3 linked regions of the Homo sapiens genome follow. The protein of the gene in region 1 purifies or fractionates together with the protein of each later gene. This does not show direct contact. Each region holds a gene or a part of one and is shown in the gene's direction. Other genes may lie near its edges.

What was found.
Region 2: the proteins of OR52N5 (region 1) and ART1 purify together in Homo sapiens (affinity purification with mass spectrometry; one large-scale study listed by BioGRID and IntAct). This does not show direct contact.
Region 3: the proteins of OR52N5 (region 1) and ABHD8 purify together in Homo sapiens (affinity purification with mass spectrometry; one large-scale study listed by BioGRID and IntAct). This does not show direct contact.

The regions. Positions count from the first base shown.
Region 1 is NC_000011.10:5,780,515-5,784,944, reverse strand, and holds the start of OR52N5 (olfactory receptor 52N5), read left to right. Parts: upstream 1-1,589; 5' UTR 1,590-1,650; intron 1,651-3,188; 5' UTR 3,189-3,412; intron 3,413-4,430. UniProt on the Homo sapiens protein: Odorant receptor.
Region 2 is NC_000011.10:3,651,516-3,655,167, forward strand, and holds part of ART1 (GPI-linked NAD(P)(+)--arginine ADP-ribosyltransferase 1 precursor), read left to right. Parts: intron 1-3,652. UniProt on the Homo sapiens protein: Has ADP-ribosyltransferase activity toward GLP1R.
Region 3 is NC_000019.10:17,296,913-17,300,564, reverse strand, and holds part of ABHD8 (protein ABHD8), read left to right. Parts: intron 1-2,187; exon of another isoform or gene 2,188-2,253; intron 2,254-3,652. UniProt on the Homo sapiens protein: Negatively regulates NLRP3-driven inflammation. Promotes NLRP3 degradation through the chaperone-mediated autophagy (CMA) pathway, hence attenuating inflammasome activation and IL1B secretion.

The DNA.
Region 1 (4,430 bases):
TATTTTAGCTCATAACTGCATCTTTCTTTTAATTTTCTTGATAGTTATTTTCTTGAATGAATAATTAAAGAAAATGATTTGAATAAACTAGGTTACTGATAACTTGTTTGTTCATATTTAAAAAGTGGAGGCTGAGAAACTACAATGCTTATCAAAATTACTGAATTTTTTTTTTTTTTTTCTGGAGACGGAGCCTTGCTTGTCGCCCAGGCTAGAGTGCAATGGTGCAGTCTTGGCTCACTGCAACCTCTGCCTCCCAGGTTCAAGCAATTCTCCTGCCTCAGCCTTCCGAGTAGCTGGGATTACAGGTGCCTGCCACCACGCCCTGCTAATTTTGTATTTTTAGTAGATCTGAGGTTTCACCATGTTGGCCAGGCTGGTCCTGAATTCCTGACCTCAAGCCATCTGCCCGCCTCCGCCTCCCAAAGTGCTGGGGTTACAGGTGTGAGCCACCACAGCTGGCCCTGAAATTACTGAATGTTAAGTAGAAAATCTTCACGCTCAGAAAGGTAGTTTATCGGGAAGTTAAATCGTAATTTCAGCACACCAAGAAATCCAACGTAACAATGACCCTCAATTCTGACTATGGGTAAGGTTGGTCCCACTTACATCTACTTATGGCCTGTTCTATTTTACTTTCCATTATCTGGCACCTATAGCTGGGGGAGACCAGTTACTCATAGAGAACCTTACTGAATAAGGTGGCATATATACTTGGATTGTGTTCAAGAGCATACAGTAGAGTTTTGGTGCAATCTTTCTGGGGGGATAAAAGTCTAGCAACATAAAAGCTTTAAAATTAGCATATTTTTTACTCAATATCTATTCAGGTCTATAAATTTTCCAATGGAATTAATCATGATTGTGTTGATGTTCACCATCAAGTTGTAACATATTGGAAATTAACTCAATGTTTTAAATTTTAAAAATACGTAAAGGAAAGTTTATAGCCATAAAGTAGCTTTGCTGACTTTGACATATTGCAGAGGAGTGAAAGAGTGAAATATTCATGACATAATGGAAAAAACCGTGATAAAATATCCTCTAAACTATGAATATTCTGAAAACTGTGATTTTCAAAAAAAATTTACACATACCTGGAAATAAAAACACACAAAATCCTAATAGCAAGTGTTTCTGAGTATCTGAAGTATGTACTATTCAGAAGTGCCTTTATTGTTACTTTTTTCTTTTTCGACTAATAAGCATTTACTATTTTAGAATTAACAATAATAAATAACAACACACTTATGATATCACACTCATATACATCTTTTATTTATTTTTAATTGCCTTAGACACGAATTGCCAACTTCTAGTCCTAATGGTGGGATAGCTGTGGCATGGGATTTGCTTTCCTGACTGCTCTTTTTTGGAGCCCAGCTATAGTCACAGAAGTTTTTTCCCTCACATATAGGAATCTTTCCCTTAGGGCTCTGTGGTCTCTGGGGTCTCCGAAGCCCAGTTTCACACTGAGACTCTCGAGCATATGAGATTATGCCTGTTTCCTGTGGGAACTCGGCTGGACTAAGCACTTCTGATCCAAACTCTATAAGCTGAAGCCAGGGTCCTGCCATCACATGCATTCCTGGGCCCTCTCCCTGGCATGAACACCTTTCACATCACTTCTCCTCAGGAGCTATATTGTGGGTAAGAGATTTCTGCCTTCCAGACATTATTGTGTGACAAAGCCTTGTCTTGTTCTAGCCAGTTTGTGTCATCATAAGGATCAAAGACACTGACTTGCAGAAAATGTTGTTGGTGATTTCTTAGTCTGAGAAAATTAGGAAGAGTATGTTCATTCCACATTCAAAGCAGAGATAGTACTTGTAAGGGATATGTGTTCTTGGTGGACAAGGTACAGGTTAGATGCCCTCAAAATCTCCTTTAGAATTTAAGGAACTCCTCTCGTTATATTTATTCTTCTTCTTTTTTTTAATATGTGCTGTAATGCCAGGGTCAGAGAAGTGGACAGTAAGAACTTTACTGTCTCTTAAATCAGGAAAAAACAAATAGCTACAAACTTTTCCCTTCAAGTCACTAGCCCATCCTTTCCCAGTCCCTCCCTTTTCTTAAGTTGGGTCATACAACTTGGAGTCAGTCAATACAACTCCAATTTGTTGAGTATTCTTTTTTTAAGCTGGGTACTGTCCTTTTTCATGGGATAAAATAGGTGGCAGATTTGGCCCATAGACTAAAAGAGCTCACAGGTCAGTAAGGAGACAGGATAAATATAAATTGTTTGAGCACTGGTGCCCAAGTTATCATCATCATAAAAATGGAGAAAATGTGAAGGTAGCAAGGAGGAAGAAAGGTGAATTTCAAATAATAATTCTGGTTTGGTTTAAGAGAGATGGGGTTGTGCCTCACCAGTATTTAGTGTAGACAGCACAAAATTCTGTATCTTTGGCAAGCTATTGAACAAAGAGTCTTGATTAGATAGTGATTAGATACTATTTAATTAGCAGATGCATTATAAGAGTGTGATTAAATTCACCAGTTAATTCAAATATTAAGCAAATATATTAAACAGGTAAATATAGACAATCAAATAGTACTACTATTACTTTTTTTTGTCTAGTCGTGTGGATAAATATTGGAGTTGATATGCAAATCTGCTATTTATGTGCAAGGTAAACCTAAAAACACCAGAGTAGAGATGGAGAAAGTCCTTCTGCTAAGTGCCAAAGGATACATTGCCTGGCACAGATACAGTCGATAATATATATATATTTTTTAATTTTACAAATGAAATATGTTCAGTTTAATTTGGAGTCCATACACTTGAGACATTCAGATTCAATTACAGCATTTTGTGTCATTAAAAGGTTGATTTGACATTTCTGGGAAAACATTTTAGAGCAACAACAGAAAAGATAAAATAGCATAAGAGAATCTAGAAGTCTCTTTTCTGGATCCAGCTTTATCCTGACATTCCTCTCCAGAGAATCAAGGATAGGTCGTTCAGATGCCTGATAGGATTTTATTCTGTGTACTGGTTCCTGAATTCCTTGAAAAAATACTGTTCCAAGCCATCACTAGAGAAGTATAGCGTGGAAGTTAAAAGGAAGTGAAAAAGTAAGTCTCCTTGGCTTTCCTAACTTCTAAGCAGTTCCTGATTCATCCACATTTTCTGGAGGTTAGGATAAAGTGGTAATTCAAAGGAGCCTGTTTTCTGTTGTAAACAGCCAGAGGCAACCATGGATGCTACATGTATTTTGTGTCAAATGGCTGCCCAGCGTGGGATGAGGAGGCCGCACAGGATGCAACAGTGATAGGATCAATCACTCCACCCTTCACCAGATACTGGAGGCGTGGACATCTACATCAGGTAATGGAACTCATTGTCATCAAGGATGGACAAGCAATTGTGATTGACACAAGGTCGTAAGCTGCAGCATATCTTGATGTGGTATGTTTTGTTATTATTATACCTCAAATGCGTGCCTACATTCTGTTGCCTTTTTTAATTCCCCAGAACCACAAGCAAGAATAAAGAAGTCGGGTAGGCTCAGGGTGAGTCCGCATAGTATTTGTAACCAAATTACCTTCTCCTTTGAAAGAAAAAAATATAAATCATCCCACACAACTTTCTTACTATTTACCTTCACAATGACTGCAATGCTGGACAAGGAAGAAATTTTAAGAAGCAGGAGCATTAGAGGTCACATGCTAGAAACATGAAGCCTCATCTTGCTACAGGGAAAACAAAGAAATAGGAAAACAAATACAAAATCAAACAAATGAGAAAATAAATCACTGAACTACTACATGTTAGTCCACAACTTCTGCATTAATTCTGTTTATAAGGGATTTGCTTTAATGGAGCATATGTGAAAGTCTGATCTAAGGAAACCTATGTTTCATTCTGAGTTAATCACTAATAGCCTTGATTAAGCAAGTTAAACATCCTGTATCTAAATCAGGGTGTTTAACGGCAATAGCTCATTCTGGACTCTGGAAACCACAGTCTTCTTCAAAGAAAGTAACATCCTATCTCAGTGTTACTAAGATAAGCATCAGGCATTTAAGTCTTTAATCTATTTTAAGTTGATTTTTGTATGTGGTATGAGATAAGGGTCTAATTTTTTTCTTCTGAGTGTGGATATTCAGTTTTCCCAACACCATTTATTGAAGACACTGTCTTTCCTGATTGTGTGTTCTTGGCACCTTTGCTGAAAATTTTTTGGCTGTAGATATATGGGCTTTTTTCTGGGCTTTCTTTTCTGTTTCATCTTTCAGTCTTGGTATGTTACTGAGTCAAATAATCCATTTTTTCTACATTATTCAATTTATTGGTGTATAATTGTTCATAGTAGTCTCTTATGAACCTTTGTATGTCTGTTGTATCAGTTGTAATGTCTCCTTTTTCATTTTCATTTTATTTATTTGAGTTTTCTCTTTTTTCCCCCCTCAGTTAATCTAGCTAA
Region 2 (3,652 bases), 2.1 Mb from region 1:
ATCCTATAGCCTTTCTGTCCAAACAACTTGCCCTTACGTTTTAGCCTAGCCCTCATGTCTGCGTGCAGCGGCTGCCGCTGCTTTAATAGTTTTAGAGGCCCTAAAAATCACAAACTATGCTTAGCTCACTCTTCACATTTCTCATAACTTCTAAAATCTATTTTCTTCCTCATACCTGATGCATATACTTTCTGATCCCCCAGCTCCTTCAGCTGTACTCACTCTATGTTAAGTCCCACAATTACCATTGTTCCTGGCCCGGACTTCAATCCGGCCTCCCACATTATTCCTGATACCACACCTGACCCCCATGACTGTATGTCTCTGATCCACCTGACATTCACCCCATTTCCCCATATTTCCTTCTTTCCTGTTCCTCACCCTGATCACGCTTGATTTATTGATGGCAGCTCCACCAGGCTTAATCGCCACACACCAGCAAAGGCAGGCTATGCTATAGAACAAGCCACCAGCCCGCCTCTTAGAACCTCTCATTTCCTTTCCATCGTGGAAATCTATCCTCAAGGAAATAACTTCTCAGTGTTCCATCTGCTATTCTGCTACTCCTCAGGGATCATTCAGGCCCCCTCCCTTCCCTACACATCAAGCTCGAGGATTTGCCCCCACCCAGGACGGGCAAATTAGCTTTACTCAACATGCCCTGAGTCAGATAACTAAAATACCTCTTAGTCTAGGTAGACACTTTCACTGGATAGGTACAGGCCTTTCCTACAAGGTCTGAGAAGGCCACCGCAGTCATTTCTTCCCTTCTGTCAGACATAATTCCTCAGTTTAGCCTTCCCACCTCTATACAGTCTGAAAACAGACCAGCCTTTACTAGTCAAATCAGCCAAGCAGTTTTTCAGGCTCTTAGTATTCAGTGAAACCTTTATATCCCTTACGGTCCTCTGTCTTCAGGAAAAGTAGAACGGACTAAAGGTCTTTTAAAAACACACCTCATCAAGCTCAGCCACCAACTTAAAAAGGACTGGATAATACTTCTACCACTTTCCCTTCTCAGAAGTCAGACGTGTCCTCAGAATGCTACAAGATACAGCCCATTTGAGCTCCTGTATAGACGCTCCTTTTTATTAGGCCCCAGTCTAATTCCAGACACCAGACCAACTTAGACTGTGCCCCAAAAGAACTTGTCATCCCTACTATCTTCTGTCTAGTCATACTCCTATTCACCATTCTCAACTACTCATACATGTCCTGCTCTTGTTTACACTGCCGGTTTACACTGTTTCTCCAAGCCATCACAGCTGATATCTCCTGGTGCTATCCCCAAACTGCCACTCTAAACTCTTGAAGTAAATAAATAATCTTTGCTGGCAGGACTATGTTGAATCTCCTTAGGCACTCTCTAATCAGATGTCCTAGGTCCTCCCAATTCTTAGACCTTTTATACCTGTTTTTCTCCTTCTCTTATTCCATTTAGTTTTTCAATTCATACAAAGCCATATCCAGGCCATCACCAATAATTCTACACGACAAATGTTTCTTCTAACAACCCCACAATATCACCCCTTACCACAAAATCTTCGTTCAGCTTAATCTCTCCCACTCGAGGTTCCCACGCTGCCCCTAATCAAAGCAGCCCTGAGAAACATCGCCCATTATCTCTCCACACCACCCCCAAAAATTTTCACCGTCCCAACACTTTACCACTATTTCATTTTATTTTTCTTATTAATATAAGAAGACAGGAATGTCAGGCCTCTGAGCCGAAGCTAAGCCATCATGTCCCCTGTGACCTGCACATACACATCCAGATGGCCGGTTCCTGCCTTAACTGATGACATTCCACCACAAAAGAAGTGAAAATGGCCGGTTCCTGCCTTAACTGATGACATTGTCTTGTGAAATTCCTTCTCCTGGCTCATCCTGGCTCAAAAGCTCCTCTACTGCGCACCTTGTGACCCCCACTCTGACTGCCAGAGAACAACCCCCCTTTGACTGTAATTTTCCTTTATCTACCCAAATCCTATAAAACGGACCCACCCTTATCTCCCTTCGCTGACTCTCTTTTCGGACTCAGTCCACCTGCACTCAGGTGATTAAAAGCTTTATTGCTCACACAAAGCCTGTTTGGTGGTCTCTTCACACGGACGCGCATGAAAAGAGGAGCTTCGTATTTTTTTTAAATCTACTCCGCTTCTCCTCTGTGTTTCTAGTTTAAAGAATGGAAACCTGGGTGTCATCCTTGATTTTTCCCTCTCTCACGTCCCCTATAGCCCATCAGACATCAAGTCTTGTAAATTCCACCTCCTACCTCTGTCTATCCTCACTGCCATTCTCCCATCAGACATCAAGTCTTGTAAATTCCACCTCCTACCTCTGTCTATCCTCACTGCCATTCTCCCATCAGACATCAAGTCTTGTAAATTCCACCTCCTACCTCTGTCTATCCTCACTGCCATTCTCCCATCAGACATCAAGTCTTGTAAATTCCACCTCCTACCTCTGTCTGTCCTCACTGCCATTCTCCCATCAGACATCAAGTCTTGTAAATTCCACCTCCTACCTCTGTCTGTACTCACTGCCATTCTCCCATCAGACATCAAGTTTTGTAAATTCCAACTCCTACCTCTGTCTATCCTCACTGCCATTCTCCCATCAGACATCAAGTCTTGTAAATTCCACCTCCTACCTCTGTCTATCCTCACTGCCATTCTCCCATCAGACATCAAGTCTTGTAAATTCCACCTCCTACCTCTGTCTATCCTCACTGCCATTCTCCCATCAGACATCAAGTCTTGTAAATTCCACCTCCTACCTCTGTCTATCCTCACTGCCATTCTCCCATCAGACATCAAGTCTTGTAAATTCCACCTCCTACCTCTGTCTGTCCTCACTGCCATTCTCCCATCAGACATCAAGTCTTGTAAATTCCACCTCCTACCTCTGTCTATCCTCACTGCCATTCTCCCATCAGACATCAAGTCTTGTAAATTCCACCTCCTACCTCTGTCTGTCCTCACTGCCATTCTCCCATCAGACATCAAGTCTTGTAAATTCCACCTCCTACCTCTGTCTGTCCTCACTGCCATTCTCCCATCAGACATCAAGTCTTGTAAATTCCACCTCCTACCTCTGTCTATCCTCACTGCCATTCTCCCATCAGACATCAAGTCTTGTAAATTCCACCTCCTACCTCTGTCTATCCTCACTGCCATTCTCCCATCAGACATCAAGTCTTGTAAATTCCACCTCCTACCTCTGTCTATCCTCACTGCCATTCTCCCATCAGACATCAAGTCTTGTAAATTCCACCTCCTACCTCTGTCTGTCCTCACTGCCATTCTCTTACTCAGGTCCACTAATTCCATGTCCTCAGTCTGCCTTCAAGCCTCTCCTCCCCTCAAGCCTCTGATGTATCTTGTTTATTGTAGAGCAGATGCAGACAGAAACAGAGCTGTGGAGACACAATGAGAGATACAGCTGGCCCAGTGGGCTTTTGCTGCATAACTATTTTGCCGTGTGCCACAAAATCTCAGTGGCAAACAAACATTTACTCCCAGGCTCATGGTCTTTGGGTTGACGGCAAGTGGCTTATCTAAACTGGACTTGGTTGGGCAGCTCTGCTCAGGCCGCCGGTCTGGCTCAGCTGGGGTCTTCCTTGCTCTGGGCTGGGCTCAGGTCTGTTCCT
Region 3 (3,652 bases), on another chromosome or scaffold:
TGGAGGTTGCAGTGAGCCGAGATTGTGTCACTGCACTCCAGCCTGGGCGACAGAGGGAGACTCTGAGATGCCACTGACACCTGTAATCCCAGTGCTTTCGGGGGCCAAGGCGGGAGGATATCTTGAGGCAAGGAGTTTGAGACCAGCCTGGGCAACATAGGGAGAACCCCCTAGCTCTACAAAAAGTACAAACATTAGCTAGGTGAGGAGGTGCACGCATATAGTTCCACCTACTTAAGGGCTGAGGCAGGAGATTGCTTGAGTCTGGGAGGTCGAGGCTGCAGTGAACTGTGATCACACCACTGCACTCCAGCCTGGGCAGCATGGCAAGAACCTGTCGCTCTTTAAAAAAGAAAAAAAAATCCGGGCGCGGTGGCTCACGCCTGTAATCCCAGCACTTTGGGAGGCTGAGGCGGGCGGATCACGAGGTCAGAAGATTGAGACCATCCTGGCTAACACGGTGAAACCCTGTCTCTACTAAAAATACAAAAAATTAGCTGGGTGTGGTGGTGGGCACCTATAGTCCCAGCTACTCGGGAGGCTGAGGCAGGAGAATGGCATGAGCACGGGAGACGGAGCTTGCAGTGAGCCAAGATCATATTGTGCCACTGCACTCCAGCCTGGGCGACAGAAGGAGACTCCGTCATGAAAAAAAAAAAAGGGGCCACCACGCGCGGTGGTGCACATTTGTAATCCCAGCACTTTGTGGATGGATCATTGGAGATGAGTTTGGACAACATGGCAAAACCTTATCTCCTAAAACAAAACAAAGCAAACAAAAATCCTAATTTTTCTCCTTGAAAAAAATCCCATTTTTCAATTTAATTTTTACATTTTTAAAATTTTTTTTTCTTTTAAATAGAGATGGCATCTCACTATGTTGCCCAAGATGTTCTTTAACTACTGGGCTCAAGTGATCCTTGCACCTCAGCCTCCCAAAGTGCTAGGACTACAGGTGTGAGTCATTGTGCTCAGCCTTAATTTTTTTTTTTTTTTTTTTTTTTGAGATGGAGTCTCACTCTGTCCCCCAGGCTGGAGTGCAGTGGCGTGATCCTGGCTCACTGCAAGCTCCACCTCCCAGGTTCATGCCATTCTCCTGCCTCAGCCTCCCTAGTAGCTGGGACTACAGGCACCCGCTACCATGCCTGGCTAATTTTTTGTCTTTTTAGTACAGACGGGGTTTCACCGTGTTAGCCAGGATGGTCTCGATCTCCTGACCTCGTGATTCGCCCTCCTCGGCCTCCCAAAGCGCTGGGATTACAGGCGTGAGCCAACGCACCAGGCCAATTTTCAAGTTCAAAAAAAAATTATATAGAGAATGGGGGGGGGGTCTCATTATGTTGCCCAGGCTGGTCTTGAACTCCTGGGCTCAAGCCATCCTCCCTCCTTGGCCTCCCGATGTGGTGGGGTAACAGGCATGAGCCGCTATACCAGGCTGAAAACTCCCATTAGCATATGTAATCAGACAGGGATTTCCGTCATCACTGATATTGTTTCACATTGTTCTAAAGCAGTGTTGCTCAGGCCAGGTGCAGTGGCTTACGCCTGTAATCCTAGCACTTTAGGAAGCCAAAGCAGGCAGATCACTTGAGGTCAGGAGTTCAACACCAGTTTGGCCAACATGGTGAAACCCCATCTCTACTAAAAGTACAAAAAATTAACCAGGCATGATGGTGTGTGCCTGTAATCCCAGCTACTCGGGGGTGTGAGGCAGGAGAATCACTTGAACCTGGGAGGCAGAGGTTGCAGTGAGCCAAGATCACACCACTGCACTCCAGCCTGAGCAACAGAGTGAGACTCTGCCCAAAAAAAAAAAAAAAAAAAAAAAAGCAGTGTTGTTCAATCCCAGCACTATCGTGTTTGGCCAGGTTATTTTTTTTCTGTGAGGGGCTATAGGATGTTTAGTAGCATCCCTGGCTTCTGCCCACTGGATGCAACTACACAATCTAGTGTTGATCATGACAGTCAAAAATGTCTTCAGTAGTTGCCAAGCGTGCCCTGGTGGGCAGAATTACCCCCAGCTGAGAACCACTGCCTTAGACTAAGTTAAAAAATCAACTGCCCTGGAGAACACTGTGCATTCAGGAAGCGCTCATCGGAATCCTGTAAATTCTAGGCATTTACAAAGGCATGGGTTACTGTAATTCACTCCTGCTTAAAGGGCAGGTAATACAACCTAAAACTTACCAAGAACCCCTCCATGGAAGGCTTGGTCCCCAGGGCTTGACCACTACCAAGTGGCCTCATTCTCTCCTTTATCCAGGAAGAAAGGCAAGATTGAACAGCCAGGCAAGTTGAGCACCACTGTTTTAGAGATTCTAGCCTATGCAATTAGACAAGAAAAAAAGGCCAGGCGTGGTGGCTCACACCTGTAATCCCAGCAATTTGGGAGGCCGAGGCGGGCGGATCAGGAGGTCAGGAGATCAAGACCATCCTGGCTAACACGGTGAAACCCCGTCTCTACTAAAAAATACAAAAAAAAATTAGCCAGGCATGGTGGCAGGCGCCTGTAGTCCCAGCTACTCAGGAGGCTGAGGCAGGAGAATGGCGTGCACCCAGGAGGTGGAGCTTGCAGTGAGCCGAGATTGTGCCACTGCACTCCAGCCTGGGTGACAGAGTGAGACTCCATCTCAAAAAAAAAAAAAAAGAAAAAAGAAAAATAAATAAGTGGCCAGGTGTGGTGGCTTACACCTATAATCCCAACACTTTGGGAAGCTGAGGTGGGAGGACTGCTATAGCTGAGGAGTTCAAGACCAACCTGGGCAACATAAGCAAGATCTCATCTCTACAAAAAACTAAAAAGTAAAAAAAAAAAAAAAAGAAAAGAAAACAAAGAAGTTACATAAGTATCTAAAAGAAAGGAATCTAGACTGAGAGGTAACAGCTCTTATTTGTTTATATTTCTTTATATAACATACTCAAAAGTTGATGCTTATGAGAAATGATTCCTCTAATTAAATGAGCACCCACCTGCTGGGCACAGTGGTTCACACCTGTAATCCCAGAACTTTTGGAGGCCGAGGCAGGCGGATCACAAGGTCAGGAGTTCAAGACCAGCCTGGCCAAAATGGTGAAACCCCGTCTCTAATAAAAATACAAAAAGTAGCTGGGTATGGTTGCAGGTGCCTATAATCCCAGCTACTTGGGAGGCTGAGGCAGGATAATCATTCGAACCCATGAGGTGGGGGTTGCAGTGAGCCGAGATCGCACCATTGCACTCCAGCCTGAGTGACAGAGCAAGACTCTGTCTCGAGAAAAAAACAAAAAAACAAAAAAAACACCCACCTACAATAGTTCCCATGACCCCATAACAGTGCTATTAGGTCAGCACATTTACAACTTCAGGAATGTGGAGGCTGAAGCTCAGAGAGGTGAAGCAACCTGCCCAAAGGCATACAGGAAGTCCCTGACACAATCAGGTCTGCCTGACTCCTGTCTGTATCCTTTCCTCATTACAGCAGGGGCTGGCAAACATTTCCTTAAAGGATCGGATAGCGAATATTTTAGGTTTGCAGGCCATACAGTCACTGTTGGAACTTCTGATAAAACTTTATTTAGGAAACATTTTTTGGCCAGGCACGGTGGCTCACGCCTCTAATCCCAGCACTTTGGGAGGCCAAGGTGGGCAGATCACCTGAGGTCGGGAGTTCAA